Regions from separate parts of the Homo sapiens genome. Here region 2 is linked to region 1. The links come from fine-mapping of genetic effects on gene expression. A gene starts in region 1. The other region holds a variant in brackets. All regions are shown on one strand. Distances are between the middles of the regions. Region 1 holds the start of GLI3 (GLI family zinc finger 3). Region 2 overlaps GLI3 (GLI family zinc finger 3).

What was found. PIP is the estimated chance that this variant, and not a neighbour inherited with it, causes the effect. A credible set is the group of variants that fine-mapping cannot tell apart.
Region 2: its variant is the best candidate, but not a certain one, in a credible set for the expression of GLI3 in fibroblasts (GTEx, PIP 0.90).

What each region holds. Positions count from the first base shown.
Region 1 is chr7:42,232,895-42,241,232 of GRCh38, forward strand. It overlaps GLI3 (GLI family zinc finger 3), which reads right to left and starts at 4,315. Exons shown (of 15, transcript NM_000168.6): 1 at 4,077-4,315. RefSeq lists an enhancer at 4,059-5,040.
Region 2 is chr7:41,991,459-41,999,796 of GRCh38, forward strand. The region is part of intron 10 of GLI3 (GLI family zinc finger 3); the gene reads right to left. Among named protein-coding and RNA genes, the nearest start is that of GLI3, 240 kb to the right of the region's middle. The variant C/T (reference allele first, on the strand shown) is at 3,415.

The DNA of each region.
Region 1 (8,338 bases):
CTTTCACATTTAAAAAAACCAAAAGACACTCACAGAGGTAATGAGTAGTGAAGAAATTTGGCACTCAAATATAGCGCATTTAGAATTACAAGTGGAAAAAGTCTCTCATTTTCAGGGGCCAGGCAAAAGAAAAGTGCCATAAAACAATTGAGACACCATGTAAAGTTTGCGATCAAATGTACTTCCAAACACATTTAACATTCAATTTCTTTCAAACAGCTCTCCTCCCTCTCCCTGGAGTGACTGGCCTTTCAATTTAAAAATAATAATTATGGCAATTTTTAAAAAAGAGAATGAAATATCTAAAGTGGCTCTAAATTAACAAGTACCACTTACTCCAGACAGCATTGCCTTTAGCAGCTCCTAAAAACTTAAGAAAAGGATCTTAAAACAGGAAGCTTAGTGAGCTCATAAAACTGTTGCTGGAGCCAGGAACACATAGCATATTTAATCTGCAAACTGTGAGAGTCTACAGTGATTTCAGCAAGATCTGAGGCATGCCCTCAAGGTTTGCTGGGATCTGGGATTAGGGGGTTGATAAGAACCTCCACTGCCCATGGACATGTTTTTCTTCTGCAGTTAAACACAAATGCATAGAGACGTTTGACTGCTGCTTGGCGTTACTGCTCAAGTTATATAAAAGCTTTGCAGCTCCTTTTGCTGTCAATATATCAAAGTTTAAAAAAAATCATCAAAGTGTGAAATTTCATTTAAAGTCTTCGCCAGTCTACAGCTCTATTTCACAGGCCCATCAAATAAAAGTAAAGATGAAAAATACACTGAAAATACTTGAAAAAGTTTGCAGCAGTACCCCCTGCCCTGTTGTTGTTTATTCTGTCTCCCTTTATTTGCTTTGAAACCAGAAACAGATCAATTTTCATCTAGAAAAATGACAACGTGAAGAGAAGGGCAGTATCTTCTCCTAGGCTTTAATGAAAAGACAACCTGAAGTCATTATTAGAGTGGAACCTTTTGTTTAACAAACGTGTGTGTATGTGTGTGTGTGTCCTATAAAGTCATTTCAGCATTTTAATTGCCTCTCATGATATAAGTTGGCAGAAAATTTACTGAATCTTCCAAAACAAATCAGACCGACCTCAGAATATGAATGCCAGCAAAACTAAAACCTCCTTCAAAGAATTCTTTAGCTGGGGATTTACAACAATTGCATAAAGAAGAAAAGTCTGACTTTTAAGATAATCTACTATAGTCTAAAAGCATTAACATTCCATTGCTAAGGTTTTCTTGAGGATTTCATGACTCATTGATTCACTTTTCCTTCAAGACTGGTTTTTCTTAGTACATTACTGTCTCCATGTAAGTGAGTGCATGCAACAATGATCATTAAATTGTTTCTTTTCATAAGCTCCCAAACTCTATCCTCAAAAAATGGAGGGGGAGAAGAGGTCTCAGTAAGCAGGATACCTTACATAGGAGGAAGGACCTCTAAATGGCTAAGCACAGAGGAAGTCTGAAATGCTTACAGCATGCAGGTAATTAAGGAAACTTCACTGGCCAAGAAACAAAGGAAAGTCCAACTTTTAGGCTTGCACATCGAATTGATAAATTAACAATTCTTTCATTAAATAATTAATGAAATAACTCTACAGAGCCATTTTTCATCAGTATTGAATTTTCTCATTTCTGTCTATGGTCCTTTGCAAATTAGATATACAATAGAAATGTGTTTATATCAAGGTTCAGTCAAGGAACACAAGCATGTTAAAGGCACTGGGAATTGGTAGGCATCTGAGTTGGACCTACCAGCCTACTAACAATAATACAATCTATATCTTTAAAGTGTTTCTGCTTGTGTGAAATTTCACTAGACACCTCTCACATTGGACTCATTCATGCATCTTAAACCAAAGCTTCCCTAGGCTGACTTTAAGAATTGCATACCCTGAAAGGATCTCCCCTTAGGCGGGGAGTTTCTAATTAAATAGCTTTTAGTATAAAATAAACTCTCTACTCTGTATAAGCATGCTATTACAACTAATTTAAATGTTATTTCATGTTTGTTTTAGGTTTGAATATAGTTTAACTGGCCAAAGTGTTTGTGTACCAGGTCGTTAAGACCAATATTTCCTAACATAAACAAATTCTTCAGATACTTCACAGAGTTTACATTGTTAAAACCAGTCCCGGCAGCTTTAATATATCCCCTCAACTGAAATACTGTTCTGCTTTAGAAAAATTAAGAGATTTTGAGGCTATTTCACTATTTTAAAACATAGCATTTTCCTCCTTCAAAAGAATCTTGACACATGTAATTAAGAAACTGTCAGACTACTATTAATTTTTAATCTAAAACCTAAATGAAATAATTACAGGAATCAATCAATAAGGCACCTATTCAAAATTACCGAGCAATTACATAAATACTCAAAATTAATACTTTAGGTCAATTCTTGTAGATTTCGGTCTATAATATGCTAAGACATCAAACAACACAAAAAGTGTAGCATGGGGAGGATGAATGGTTCCTGCCTTAAATAGACTGAAAAGAGCTCATTTCAGACGGCCAGGGTGCAGGCCCCCCACCCGCCATGCCCAATGCGCTCAAGCTGAAACTCTTTTATTTTTAAAAGTTAATTTATTTCCACCAGACACATATTTCAGGGATCTAAAAAAACGGCCTCATCCAAATTCTGTACAAAAATCACATTTAAGAGGGAAAGGCCTAATTACTCGAATTTTCAGCAAAGTGTATATACTGTGCTCTGGAAAGCCTAACTGGAGAGAAGAGGGAGGAGAGGAAAAGGGGAGCAGGAGGTATTTTTTAGAACTAATAATACCAGCCCGGCTAATGGCACTGCCATGTATTTGCACAGCGGCCGGCCCTCCATACCTTTGACTAAAGGGTTCTTTGACTTGGAGACGCAGACAGTCCATCATTTCAAACTGAAGTGGCAGCTGGAAAATGTGGAACAGCTGGCAAAGAGCTGGGAGAAAATGTTTTACATAAATATATGTACATATAAACTGGCAGAGGGCCATGAGCACTGTACCCAAGGCCAGAATCTACCCGGCAGTCTGCACTGGGGAGATGAGAAGTTGGGGCAGGATGACCAGCGGCGGAGGGAGCCTCCTTAATCCTCTTTCCACGCGGGGTCAGGCAGGGAAGCCTGGGGTGCAGCGCCTCTCGGGGGACGGCATCTTACAGAAGGAGGTGCAATGGGGGACAGGAGCACAAAGTTCAGGAAAGGATAAAAGGCCGGGTGCGGGGTGGAGCGTCCGCTTCGGACAATCTGCTTAAAAGTCGCTTCACAAACTCTGCAAGTTTGGGATCAATATTTACACCCTCTCTGCCTTCTCCCGCCCGTTTTCCCGCTGCTACTCAAGAAAGTAACTGTCCCCTGCTGCTCTGTGTAAACGCGGCACCTTAAATGATTATTGCATGGACCACGGTTACTTTGTGTGTCTGTGCGCGCTGCCCCTGGAAAGGAAAAGAAATAAGAGAATCCCAAATCATATACAGATGGTACAACTTTCACTTTTCCTCTATGACGACGAAGGCGCGCCTCTCTCCATCCGCTCACACCACACCCCCGCCCTCCGAAGCATAGCCCGGGCTGGAGAAGCCCCAGCGGCGGCGGCCCCCGCGGCGGAGGTCCCCGCGCGCACCCACCATGCCTCCCGCCTCCTTCCGCCCATCCCGAGCGCCGTGCGCGCCCGAAGCCCGAGCCGTAGAGCGCCACCGCGCAAAGGAAGGAGCCAGGCGCGTGCGGGGCTCGCGGAGTTCTTCTGAACCCTTTGGATGGGGGCGGAGGCGAGGGGCGCCGCCACCACTGCGGCAAACTTCGTCCCCCCTCCGGGAGGTGAAATTCTCCAATCCGTCTCCGGCCGGTCCGCGGGTCGGACTCTTCGGAAAGGACCTTCCAGGAGGAGGGAGCGAATGCAAGCCTTGCTCGGACGCCTCACCGGCGGCTCTCTAAATCTGGGCGCCTTTTGACAGCCATTTTCACTCCATCCCGTCCCCACGCTGGGGACCACCTCTGGCCCCGGAGGCGCGGGCGCGGCCGCAGGAGCGGGCTGCGGGGTCCGCGAAACAAAGAACTTCGAGCGGGACGTACCTGCGGCGGCAGCGGCTGTCAAGTCCCCGAACTTCCCATAGACCCGCGGACGGGGCGCAGGCTGGCGGCTCCCCGCTCCGCGCGGCCGCGGGCGGCTACGGCTACCGCGAGCGGCCGGGCTGGGCGCGGGGTGCGCCCGCCGCGGGCATGGTGCGGCGCGGGCGGCCGCGGGGCGCGCGGGGAAGGCGGGAGAGCGGCGCGGGTGAGTGGGAGCGGCGGGTGTGCGCGAGTGCGAGTGTGCGAGCGCGCCGGTGGCGCTGCCCCTGCCCGCTCCCTCCCGCTCGTGCAGCTCCGGCATCAGTTTCGGGGATCGTGTAATCCGATCCCTTCTGACTCACAAGCCCTGAGTGACAGTTCTGATTTGGTTCAACCGCGGGAGGGAGGGGAAAGAGAAAGAAAGAAACCCCCAGCCGTACGCCTCTCCTGGCATCCAATCGACTTTCTGGAAAAAGGTCCCATCCCGGCCTGGTGCCCCGTGCTGGGTGGAGAAGCCCCCCGCCCCGACCTGGCACCGCCTGCACTACTCACGGGGTGGAAAAGTTGTCCCTCGGCTCCGCGCTCCCCTCCCGCGCGCTCCCTCCTTCCCTTCTCTCCTCCTCTTCCTCCTCCTCCCCGCGCTCCTCCTCCCCCAAGTTTTAACAGATGTTGCCGGACTCTCCTCGCTCCCTCGCACTCTCTCTTCCTCCGCCCCGGCCCCCGCCCAGTCCCTTTTCTTTCAGCCACTCTCGGGCTCGGAGGGGACGCGCTGAGCAGCAGGACGCCTGCCGCCGCAGGGGGCGAAGTTGGGAAAACTTGGAGTGCTGCTCGCCTTACTTTTGCTTTCTCGCTCCTTCCAGGCCGCGCCGGGAGCCCCCGCTTCTCCCGCCCGCCGGGTCCCCAAGCCCGGAGTGGGTCCCAGCTGCGAGGCGGGCGGCGGCGGCTGGGAGGCGGCGCGTCGCGGGCCGGGGTCGGGGGCTGGGGGGGAGCCCGGGCGCCGCGAGCCACGCGCGCGCTCCCTCCCCGCCCTCCGCCGCCGCCGCCGCCGCCGCCGCCGCCTCCTCCTCCTCCTCCTCCTTCTCCTCCTCCTCCTCCTCCTCCGCCCCTCCCCGGTCTTCACACAGACACATTCATGCCTGCTCCTCCTCTTCCCCCTACTTGACCCCGCGCCCTCCCGGCGCGCCGAAGCCCCACCCACCCGGCGAGGGGAAGGGGGCCCGGGCGTGATGTCACCCGCGCCCTCTCTCTTCTCTCTCCACACCGCCAGGACACCCCCCAAATGCGCGCCCTGGCACTCGTGCTGCGTCCTGTCTGCTCCCATCTTCTCCCACCCAGCCTCTCTTTCTCACTCTTGCTCAAGGGCTGGACTCCCCTTTATTCTTTTAAGGCTTCTCTGATTACCACCGCCCCCCATCCTTGGCTCCCCATCTCCTTGTTTTACATTTTCCCAAAGCCATCCCCGAAACTCCCTCTCGCGGGATGATGCCTTTGGAAGTTCAGGGTTTTTCTCTCCACCGGACTCGTCTGCCCTCGGGGCCAAATCCGCGAAGCGAGGAGGAGCTCCCACCACACAGCCTGCTGTCCCTATGGGCCACTTTATAAAAGACACAAAAACAAAGACCCCAGGCTTGGAGCCTGGTCTCTAACGTGCCGCTTTTCCTTGAGCTACAAAGTGTCTCTGTCCCTGCTTCATTTTCAGAGGCCCATGCTAGTAAAAGTTATTTGGCCTCCTTCCTCGACCATCCAGTCCTTGTTCATCTGCGTCATTTTAATATATCCAACCTGGACATGTAACTTAAAAAAGGAGTTCTCGGGGGGAAACACAGGAAGAAAAAGAAAGAAAAGAAAGCCCCTGTGACATTCCAACATCCCCTCTTTCTGGTTAAGCCGGGTCCACCCAGCCAGAAGTGCCCCGGAGCTCCGGGTTGCTTGTGTGGCGTTGCCGCCAAGTGTCTTGACTGAAGGAAGAGTGTGGGTGGATGAATGATGAGCTATTAGAATTTGAAGAGCATTTTGAGATTCAAATGCTTAACTGAAGAATCTTTTAACGAAATTGAGGGTGGTATTCATTGTTTGTTTCTTGGGACTCCTTCCTTGTCACAATGACATGACAAGTGCAGAGACAGACTTAAGGTTTTATGGTGGAAGTGGTGGAGGTAAGGTGGGGCTAAAGGCCCTAGTTAGCCATTTGTTTTAAGATTTCCCTCGACCTCACGGCTCAGGAAAAAACAAAACACCACTGACTCATCGCAGAGAGCACGAGACTCAGAAGCCCTGTGGCAGCCCCATCTCCGCGCTCACTAACTGGCCTCAGGCCTGGGAGGATTCTCTGAGCCTCCATAGGCTCTGAGCCCATCTAGGGGATAGTGTTAGGAGTGCCAGGTCGCGTACCTCCCAGGATGGCTGAGGGTTTCCAATGAGAAATACATGGAAAAGTATAGAGGGCTACAAGTGTGTAAGAATTATGCTTTTACAATTGAAGAGAATTGCAAGCCACTCTTTCCTTTATATACTCCCAGCATCAGTTACAATTGTTTTTAGTATTCATGTACTGCTTCTGCCTCAATCACATGAATACAAATAGTACATCCTGATAGCCTACTCTGTTCACCCAATGGCAAAAAATAAATACAAAGAAAGACAGCCAATAAATCATCAAATAATAGAATAAACTAGATATTTCGACTCTTACTTCAGTCTTATAGCACATTTTGAATCATGAAGATCTTGATTTTTCAGTTCTTAAAAGACAAGAACAAAGCAAAAGCAGCTAATCTTTCCCCCTATGCCCGTCACAATAGCTAAACAAAAAAGAGGAAGAATAATGCTGTGTCTCTTATGTGTCCAACTCTGCTTTAATGGTAAACCCATACATATAAGTAGGCACATTTTGCAGAAACAGTGGAGGGGTAAAAAACCCACTTTGCCTGAGTGTGGGTTAAATAATGTCATAATGCAGTGACTTTCTCTCTGTGTTAACACCAGAACGCTTTCCAAATTAAATCTTACGTAGAATCCCAAAATATAGAAGAGTTATTATGGTTGAAATTGGAGTGAGGTCTCGGAGCCCAATCCCCCTAAGCCTTTCTCTCTTTCCCTTTCCTGCAGTTGCTCCTGAGACATCTGTAAAAACCCAAAGACACCCAGAAAGACAATGCTACAACCTTTGTTTGTAGTGATACACAGCACTAAGAGACTTACAGGATTCTGTGCACTGCCCTTCCTTGATGTCTGAAATTCTATCATAGATTGACTTATTGCCATCTCTCATCAGTTCTCTTTTCAAATGCAGATATCTTAAGAAATTTTAATATAGTAAGTCCTCAGAATAGTTAAGCTTTTAAGACAGACTTTCTTTCTTGTTGTTGCAACAGTGAAGTAGGAGATACTTGAAGATACTTGCATTTGTTTTCTAGGGCCATGGTAACAAAGTACCAAAAACTGGATGGCTTAAAGGACAGACATGTATTGTCCTATAGTTTCTAGAGGCTTGAAGTCCAAAAGTAAGGTGTCTTGCAGGGCCACACTCCCTCTGAAACCTGGAAAAGAAATTTCTCCCTTGCCTCTTACTGGCTTCTGGTGGTGGCTGTCAATCTGGGTGTCCCGTGGCTTGCAGCTTCTCCCTTTCAGTCTCCACCTCTGTCCTCATATGGCATTCTCCCTTTGTCTCTGGCTTCTCTTCTTATAAAAGCACGAGTTATATTCTGTTAGAGACCCACCCTACTCCAGAATGACCTCATCTTAACTAATTACATCTGCAACAAGCCTGTTTCCAAGATCATATTCTGAGGTTCCTAGGGTTAGAACTTCAACATTTTCTTCTGGGGGACATAATTCAACTCCTAACAACACTGCAAAAGATAGTGGGAGAGGAATGAAGGATACGCAAGAGAGAGAACAAAGGATGAACCTGGAAACAAACTTCACGTGCTCCTCTGATTCCTACCATGGGCCGATGTTATACAAATACTTTTCTCCCCTCACTTACCATGGCAGTTCTTCCATCTCCCTGCACAGTAGCACCCAGTTAATTATTGGAAAATTCCAGGAGGATAGTCCATGTGTACTAATAAACTTCAAGTTGCATGGGACAAAATTCCACCTCCAATTGACTTAAGTTAAACTTCAGAGGGATTGGGTGGCTGTTTTTATTGACAAAAAAGTCCAGAAACATGTAGGCATGCTTTAGGCAAAACAGGATCTAGGGGCTCCAATAACGTCTACTGGGTTCTGTTTTCATCTTTCGGCTCCACTTTATTCACACTTCATACAAAGTTTCTTTAGGC
Region 2 (8,338 bases), 240 kb before region 1:
CCCCTATTAACAGTACATCTAAGTATATAAAAGCAAAATCTCCATACACGCAATATGAGTATCCACTACATGTTCTATACCTAGATTGTAATTTTCTTTAGCTTATTAGTAGAAGGCATAGAGTTTAGAGAAAGAGCATAAGCCCAGACAGTAGGCTATAGGGATTCATTCATTTGTGTGCCATGGGCAAAACATATATGAGACATAGGCATTGTGCCTGAGTCTAAATAAGGTGAATGGGAAACAATGGGATAGGCACTAATAAAATAGTGAAGAAGGGAAGGTTTCATAAACAGGGTAACTGAGCTGAATTCAGAAGGAAGAAAGGGAGGCTGACACAGGAAAAAGTGAATTGAGGAAGAAGGGAAGAGAGATACAGAGGCCCAGTGTTAAGAAAAACACAATGTGTTGGAAAATGGTGCCAAGTATAGGATTGGGGAATGTGTGTGCGTGTCTGTGCATATGTGTGTGTATGCATGTGTATGTGTGCACATGCTGGTGAGTGGCTGTAGGATGAGTGCTGCAGAGGCAGCCTGGGGAAAAATTATAAGGGGAGTTGAGTGCCCTAAGGCAACCAGATCCCAGGCAACCAAGAGCAGGTTTTAAGCAGGGCAATGATCAGATTTGTTCTTATAAAAGGTAACTCTGGCAGCATCATAGAGGCACTAAGCAAAGACTGGGCAATGAATCCATCTAGGAGTTGCTATAATCATCCAAGAAAGCTGTGACCTTGAACTACAGCAGTAGCCAGGAGGATGAATAGTAAGGGGCTAGATGTGAAAGACATTATGGAATAATTTGTGGGTGATGAATTAGAGAGAGGAGTAACAGGTGATACCGAAGTCTCCAGCTTGAAAGATCTGAGACAATAACAGTATTGGAGGGCCAGGAGATTTGGTGACGATTACCCTTCTGTGTGGAACATATCATAGTGGAGATGCCTCCAGGACATCTCTGGTAGAGAGATCCCACAGAGAAGACAATCCTGGACATAAAGATTTGAGAATCTAAGAAAGACTGCAGCTGATGCAGGAATGTGGGCCCCTTCCCTACCCCATGTTATCTTTGGTAAACTAAAAAACACCTACACAGTATTTTAAAGATTTCACAAAGCCCAATTTGAAAACCCCTGACCAATGGAGACTGTACAGAGGATGAAAAAGGAAGAAATTGAAAACAATGACGAGACCGGTATTTTAAGAGATAGGGAAACAAAAAAAGAAAGTAAAGGAGAGAACAAAGGACACAGTAAATGGCAGGGGACAGAGCATGTCATCATGTGGGGTGTCTTTGGAGGACCCCAAAAGAAGCGATTAAGGCAAGGAAGTATTAAGTTCTTTGCCAGTGGTAGCTTGCCAGCCCCAGTAAGTTTGGGGGGATCAGACAGGAAAGACAGAAAATGTCTAGCAATATGTTGGAGTGTGGGCTTAAGCAGGAAAACTGGTTCATTTGAAATTACTGTGCTGGAAGGGGCTAAGGAGTTGCAAATAGAAATCAATATAGCACTCGAGTTTTAAGCAGTTTGTTGTTTTGAACCTTTTGTTTCTCCCATGCTGCCTGCAAAATTCAGTTCTGTGCAACAGCCTTTTATCAAGGAGGCCTGCTGGAAAAGTGAGACTGTGACCTCATCCCAGAATACAGATGAGTGGTCACCAGAAGTCAGCTGGATGTGTGACAAAGTGTCCGGCAAGAAAAAAGGTGGAGTGAGAGGAAACCCGAGGACCACACTGACCTGGAGGCACACCTGACCACCCCTGAAACAAGGGAGACAGAGCAGAGCCAGGGTTTTAGAGGAAAATGCCCTCCAGAGGCTGGCAACATAGAGATCCACAGCTGGAGACGTGTGGTCACGTCTAGGATGGGGTCACTGAGCGAGGATAACTTGACCTCTGGCAGTCCTTCTTCAAATGCCACCTCCTTACAGAGACTCATCGCCCCGCTCGATCCTGGTCCTGATGACCCCACTTACTGTCCAACCTCCCCATCCTTGAACTCTCCAAGCCCTACCCTGCTGCTCTCCCTTTTTTCCCGTGGCCCTTATCACTTCCAACACACTATAATTTACTGACTGACATTGTTTAATATTTATTGTCTGCTCCGCCCACCAGAATGTGAATTCCACACAGCCAGGGATTTTTATCAGTTTTGTTCAATGATATGTTCCAAGTGCCTGGAACAATGCCCAGCCTATAGTAGGAACTCAGTAAATACTTGCTGGAGGAATGTGTTATTAGAAATGTGTTATTGAAAACAACAAGCTTTGGAGCCAATGTGGTCCCAGGCCTCAATATACTCCCAACCGGCTGCCTGCCTTAGATTTGTGCTTTGAGAATCAGAAGCCACAGGAAACGGAAGCAATTTCCTGTGATTGCTCTATTCCCCACAATCTGATAAACCTCAGCATCACAGATGCCTGTAGGGTCCACCAAGGAGGGCCTCCTTTCAGACTATAATTTTAGACTGGGGTTCTGAGTTAGTCATGACATAATTCAGAGTTATCTTAGTTGGCTCCTATTTGTTATAAATGAAAAGAATTTTAAAATTTATTTTTGCCCACCATGACAATGTTGACATAACTGTGGGGTAAGGGTTCTGGCATTTAAATGGTAACCCTAACTTTCAATGTTATGTCCCACTGGCTGTAGAAAAAAATAATCTGATGCTTTATCGTAGGTTTCTCTTGAAATAATTCATTAAAGCATCAGATGAAGGAGGAAAAACAAAGACCAAGTTATCCTTGACAAGATTAAGCTGCACTCTATCTCACTGGAATTTGGGCCCCTAGCTATTGTTCTTGTGGACAGTTTGCACAGAGATTTCTTCCCAATGCAATGCTGTCAACGAATAGAAAACTAAAGGGCATATTTCCTCCTTAATCTGCTTGTGGAAATCTCATTCACGGAATAGAAATCTTGCCCCCTATCATGACTAACATGTTTGAAGAGTCAAAAAAGGGAAGTAAGGTTGGTCCTACAGAATTTTCATTGGAGCAATAAAGAAGGCACTTTACCTAGAAACACAGGTTTAAACTTGGCAATTTAAAATAAATAAATAAGGGTGTGTGTGTGTGCAAAATTCTGTGGTCCTTCCAAAGGGGAACTGGGAAGAAAGCCTGCCTTGTGCTAAGCACCATTCTTCACATGGTGAAATCACTCCTGGGGGAGGGTGACTTTTCTTGAATTTGAGCCATTTCTGCAATTTTGTTTTCTTGCTTTGTCTTTTACCTCCCCACCAAAGTAAGAATTTCATTCCTCAAGAAGTGCTAATTTATTCCTCAAAATATGTTTTTAATTTGGTACTTTTATTCCATAAAACTTATTTTTATAAGCAGATTTTCTTGGGAGTATTTGGCCGGTGTATATTGCATAATCATTCAAGTCTTTAAAATCTTTCATTTGACACTTCAGGCACATG[C/T]CTGTGACATATACGTGGCTTTCATAATGATCTCCACATTGCATGTGAACAGAATATTAATTTAGTGTGGTTATACCAGAGCAACTGGTTAAAAGTTTATGAATTTCAGCACTCTCTGGGGAATAAATAATGAATGCGCTTGCAAAATAAACCAGACTGAAACTAACTGAAACTCAATGTTCGGCCAAATTTTGCCACCTGGATTTTTAAAGTAAAAGTGTCCTGTTAGTTATTTTATCTAAAGTACATGCAAAATGATGTCTGTATATTTCATTTGTCAGGTAACACAACTGCAGTACAAGTATCAGGAGCATAGTTTGTTTAGCAAAAAGTCAAGATGTGTCCCCTGGTCCCAGGCTATAGGTATTAAGGTCCTTGCCACCCATGATGGATGTGAATCCATCCGTCATAGATGTGGGAACATGGCTGCTTGCGTTATGCTCCTTCCTGGTTTATCTTCTCTCATCTGTTTGCAGGAACCTGGTGTGTAGGCTGCACACACTGGGCTTTGGCTCATGCCAACTCTTCTGCCTGGCCTGCTTGTCCGATGTCTTTCTACTTGGCTGCCTCCTCCTCACACCTCATCTCCCACAGGAGGGTTTTCCTGATGTTCAGAGGGGTTCAGAAGCTTACCTAATAGTGCACCATGAGTTTGTGGCATAGATAAGAACAAAATTCAGGGCTAAACTTTCTACCCACTATGTAGATGTAGCTGAGGAAAAAAGTGGCAATTTCAAGGTCTAAAAGTTTGCTCATTTGTGAGAGAGTCAAAGGCCTCGACAGAAGAGAACATTTCCCAAATGCCTTTTAATTAAATGCTACAGAAAATGCACAGAAGAGAAGGGGTGCTGTGTACCCATTAAAATAAATGAGATGAAGAAAAGAAAGAAGAAAGGCAAGAAGGGAGGGAGGGAGAAAACCGAAAGCATCCATGCAGACATGCAGACACAAACACACACAGTGTACTCCTGATACTCTGACTATACTTGATACATATTCCAAGATCCTAGACTCTGGGGCACTGTCAAAACCAGTAACCAACATTACAAGGGTTAAATTAGTTATCCTTGGTTGGCAATGGGTCTGACCTCTGCTAACTGGTGGTCTGGAAGGAGATACCAAATCTAAGTGAAAGTCCCCTTCAGTGTAAATGGTAAATTTGCTCTGTTTTGATCCCAGGGCCTGTGGTTCAACTCTCAGGAGGGATGTGTTAACACTTCATACAGTGGATGGAGAGAAAACTGCTGTTTTTAGAAAATTTATTTTTGGTGGCTAAATGCCTTTAAACTGTATGTTCATACATTTGTATAAACTATAATTCCCTCTTTATTTTGGTCTTGATCCATTCTTATTAAAATGAACTGGCTAATTTTCCTAAATTATTGTACCATTAAAAATTATTTGTTGGAACAATTATTTTTTTTTTCCTCGAGTCCACATTAGAGAAAAGGCCTCTCTCAGAGCCACGGCCAATCCACTTTCCCAGTGGTCTTCACTGAGCATCAGCAGTTCAAACATACCCAACCTGTACCTTTCAAATGCTCAACACAGAGAATTCCCCAAGGGTTAGTCAACCGCTGGCTCATATACAAAGAAAATACTGTATTTTGCTCTGAAGAGCTTTCTGAATCAATTTAAACACAGTGAGACAGACACAATATCCCAGAGAGAGGAAAACCTACCTTATTACATTCCTGACCCAAGAGAAAGGATTTGCCCTTAGGACATAAAAGGAATCTGAGGGGGTATGGGGAAAGAATTATCTAATCCTAAACGTAAAAACAGTTCATAATGCAGCATGACAATGCTTTTAATCGCTGACATAATTGTAATATGTATATATAATATGATACAAGGAAGGTAAATGCAGCTTGCTTTTCAGCCTTAAAGGCTCTCTTCAATATTCTACTTAAGGTCTTCTGGATTTTATGCATGCTTGGGGGAATTTTCAGGGGGAGGTAACGTGATATTATAAGGATTCTTTCTCAGTAAGATCACATCTTGTTCTGATTTGATTTGATGCATCTGTATGTGGCAAGTGTGGTAAAGTGAAACTAAGCTCTGTGAATGCAGTGTTTTACAATTCCTCCTTGATTTCCTGTGCAAGCCCATGTGGCCATAAAACAATGGGCAGAAGAATTGGGATTTTTATTTCTTCATATGGGAAAGCTGCTGGGAGAGACACTCCCGTAATCTCAGCTGTGAGTGGTGTGGGCGTTCACTGTTTTCCTTTCAGGGCTATATAAAATATATTTTTTAATGGGAGTTGAGTTTTTCCCCCAGATGTTTCCATACATGATATAATGTAAGCCTATGGTACCATCTCCCAGGAAGGAAAGGCATCCCTGAGTGATTGGTTGGAAGGCTGATAAAGAAACCTGACATTTTGAGAAGTCCAGCTTTTTTTTTTCTTCTTTAACATTATTTATGGAAAGAATTTTACAACACCCTTAAAAGTCACTATGTGGTGGCTGGACTTTACCAACTTTGCAGGCTGACATTTTTACACTAGGCATGGCTGGGACCTAGGAGTTTTGCAGTGTTCACATTTTACTAAAGTGAACGCTACTGACAATTCTGGCAGATGCCAATGATCATTCCAGAATACTGAGTATCAGATCCACTATTGCTCTTTGCGGTCATATGATTAGATGAGCAAAAGAAAAAAGTGTCCAAGTAATAGAAATTTAAAAATAAAGAGAGAAAGAGCTGGTGTTCTGGCTGGACGTTGTGTGTGTCCTAATTCTCCTGAACATCAAAATCCCTCAAATGATACCTTCTGCTTTGCTTTCTAGCTGGGTTTATTTTGCGTGAGCATGGCTTTGACCCCTTCTGGACTGCTTCCTGAGTAGAGGAACTGTATCACATTCATCCTGGTACCCCACAGGCCTTCACCCTGACTTCCACACGCAGGTGCTCAGGAACTGGTGCTTGGTGCAACATAAATATATAACTTGAACCAATAATCTGTTTCCTCATATTTCATTGTAGCTGCAGTTAAGCCGTTCACCAATCCAGATGCACTGAAAAGATTTTCTCAATTTAGCTCTAATATTGATGTTTTCTTGCTCTACGTCAGAGGAGGGAAGCTTCTGCTCTAGGGCAGAAGACATCTCCTATATGCCGGCTGCACACTTAAAATTTTTTAATTTAAATTTTAATTTATTTTTTGCAAAGGGCAAGAATTAGGAATTCTTTTTGGTTCACATGTTGTCATTAAGCTGGCTCCACCAGGTCATTCTAAGGTAATGCTTGGAAAGAGGCGGTAAAGGATGGAAATGGTCACTAGGGACTTAGAGGAGCCAGGGGCTGACTTCATTTATTTTACAAGTAAACTGAGATGGCTGAAGTAATCAATATATGGCACCTCTTCTAAGGTATTCACACCACAGGCTCAAATTCCAAGCATGTGACAGAGAACACTGTATTTTCTTTATACATATTAAAAAAATAGCTCTTTTACTGCTTCTTATCTGAAGTGTCCAGAAAGCCTGTAAAAACCATTCAAAAGAAGCCCAAAATATGCTGCAAACAGCTGCTTCCCACCATGGCAGGACACGGGATATGTCAAACAAATTGCTAATTATGCATTCATTAATGGGACCTATTCCATGGCCCTCACTTATATAATTTTTCCCTTCTTAAATGCCTCAAAAATAAATTTCACCTCTAACTTTTAACACCTCTCATCAGACTATGAAGTACAAAATCCATTACTCCTAGTAAGAAAGTAAAATAATAAATTAGAACATTTCAATAGAGTGCTTGATTTTATTGGCAGAGACTCTGAATGGTGTTAACATTGGCTCAGTACAAATTACACTCCACAGCCAACTTAATGCACAAGCTATGGATATTTTCACCTCTACATTACTCACCAAATTATTCGTCAACTTTGGACATCAACAATCAAAGCACTTTTTTGTGTTATGCAAATCTATGATGTAAATATAAACTAACACCTGCAATTATTTTGCATCTTTCTCTTCTGCTAAAAATATTAGTTTTCACCCCAACCTACTTCAATGTCCTATTTAATCTTCTGTGTTTTCCCCCACACAGCCTTTCACCCTCTATGGAGTGTGATGGGCACGTGCACTGAGATTTTGTTCAAATGTGTCCAGGGTTTTCCACATTTGGTATCAAGTGACTTGAGAAGTTGGAAGTTTGCTTAGTATGAAAAATGGATTATTCAGATGAATGGAGTTTCCTGTTGAAGAGAGGGTAGCATATCATTTTCCACAGGACATTACGCCATGATAGGAAGTTATCATCAATAAATGCTGGACCTTAGATGGCAAAAACTACTAAGAAAAAAAATGAGACCATCTGGATTAACATGGGGGAAAAATGAAAGTGACCTAGGACACCTGCCTTCATCACTGTATGCACAACAGCAGCACTGAAAACTCACCCCACAGACTGCTGCACCCTCACAGAGCAGCGTAGTCTTGACTTATGCAATGTGGCCTTTGGACACATCTTCTGAATCAGAACTCAATACTGTCCACAAAGACAGAAAAAGGTTCTGATTGATACTATTGCTTTTCATTGGCTCTGGGCTACTGGGGCTTCACTGGCCACAAAATTAGGCAAACATCTTCCCATAAACCACAAGTACGTCAAAGTCATCCAGGGTGGTTATTCTTGCCCTCATCCACTCCTCTTTTACACCTTTCAGACACCACATCTCCAACGCCCTGCATCAGGGGCCCTGAAGCTCTCTGTGGTGAAGGACCATTCTGGCCTCTCTCATCTGTCGCCGATGGATATGTGGTCCTGCTACACATGACTAGAACAAGTGGGGGCCACTCCTTGGCGACCTTGAATTTGATAACATCCAAATGAGTCTATCCTCTGTTTGGTGAAAAGAACCTTTAAATCCCACACTTTTTGGCAATGTCAAAATGCCATCAAAGTTTCT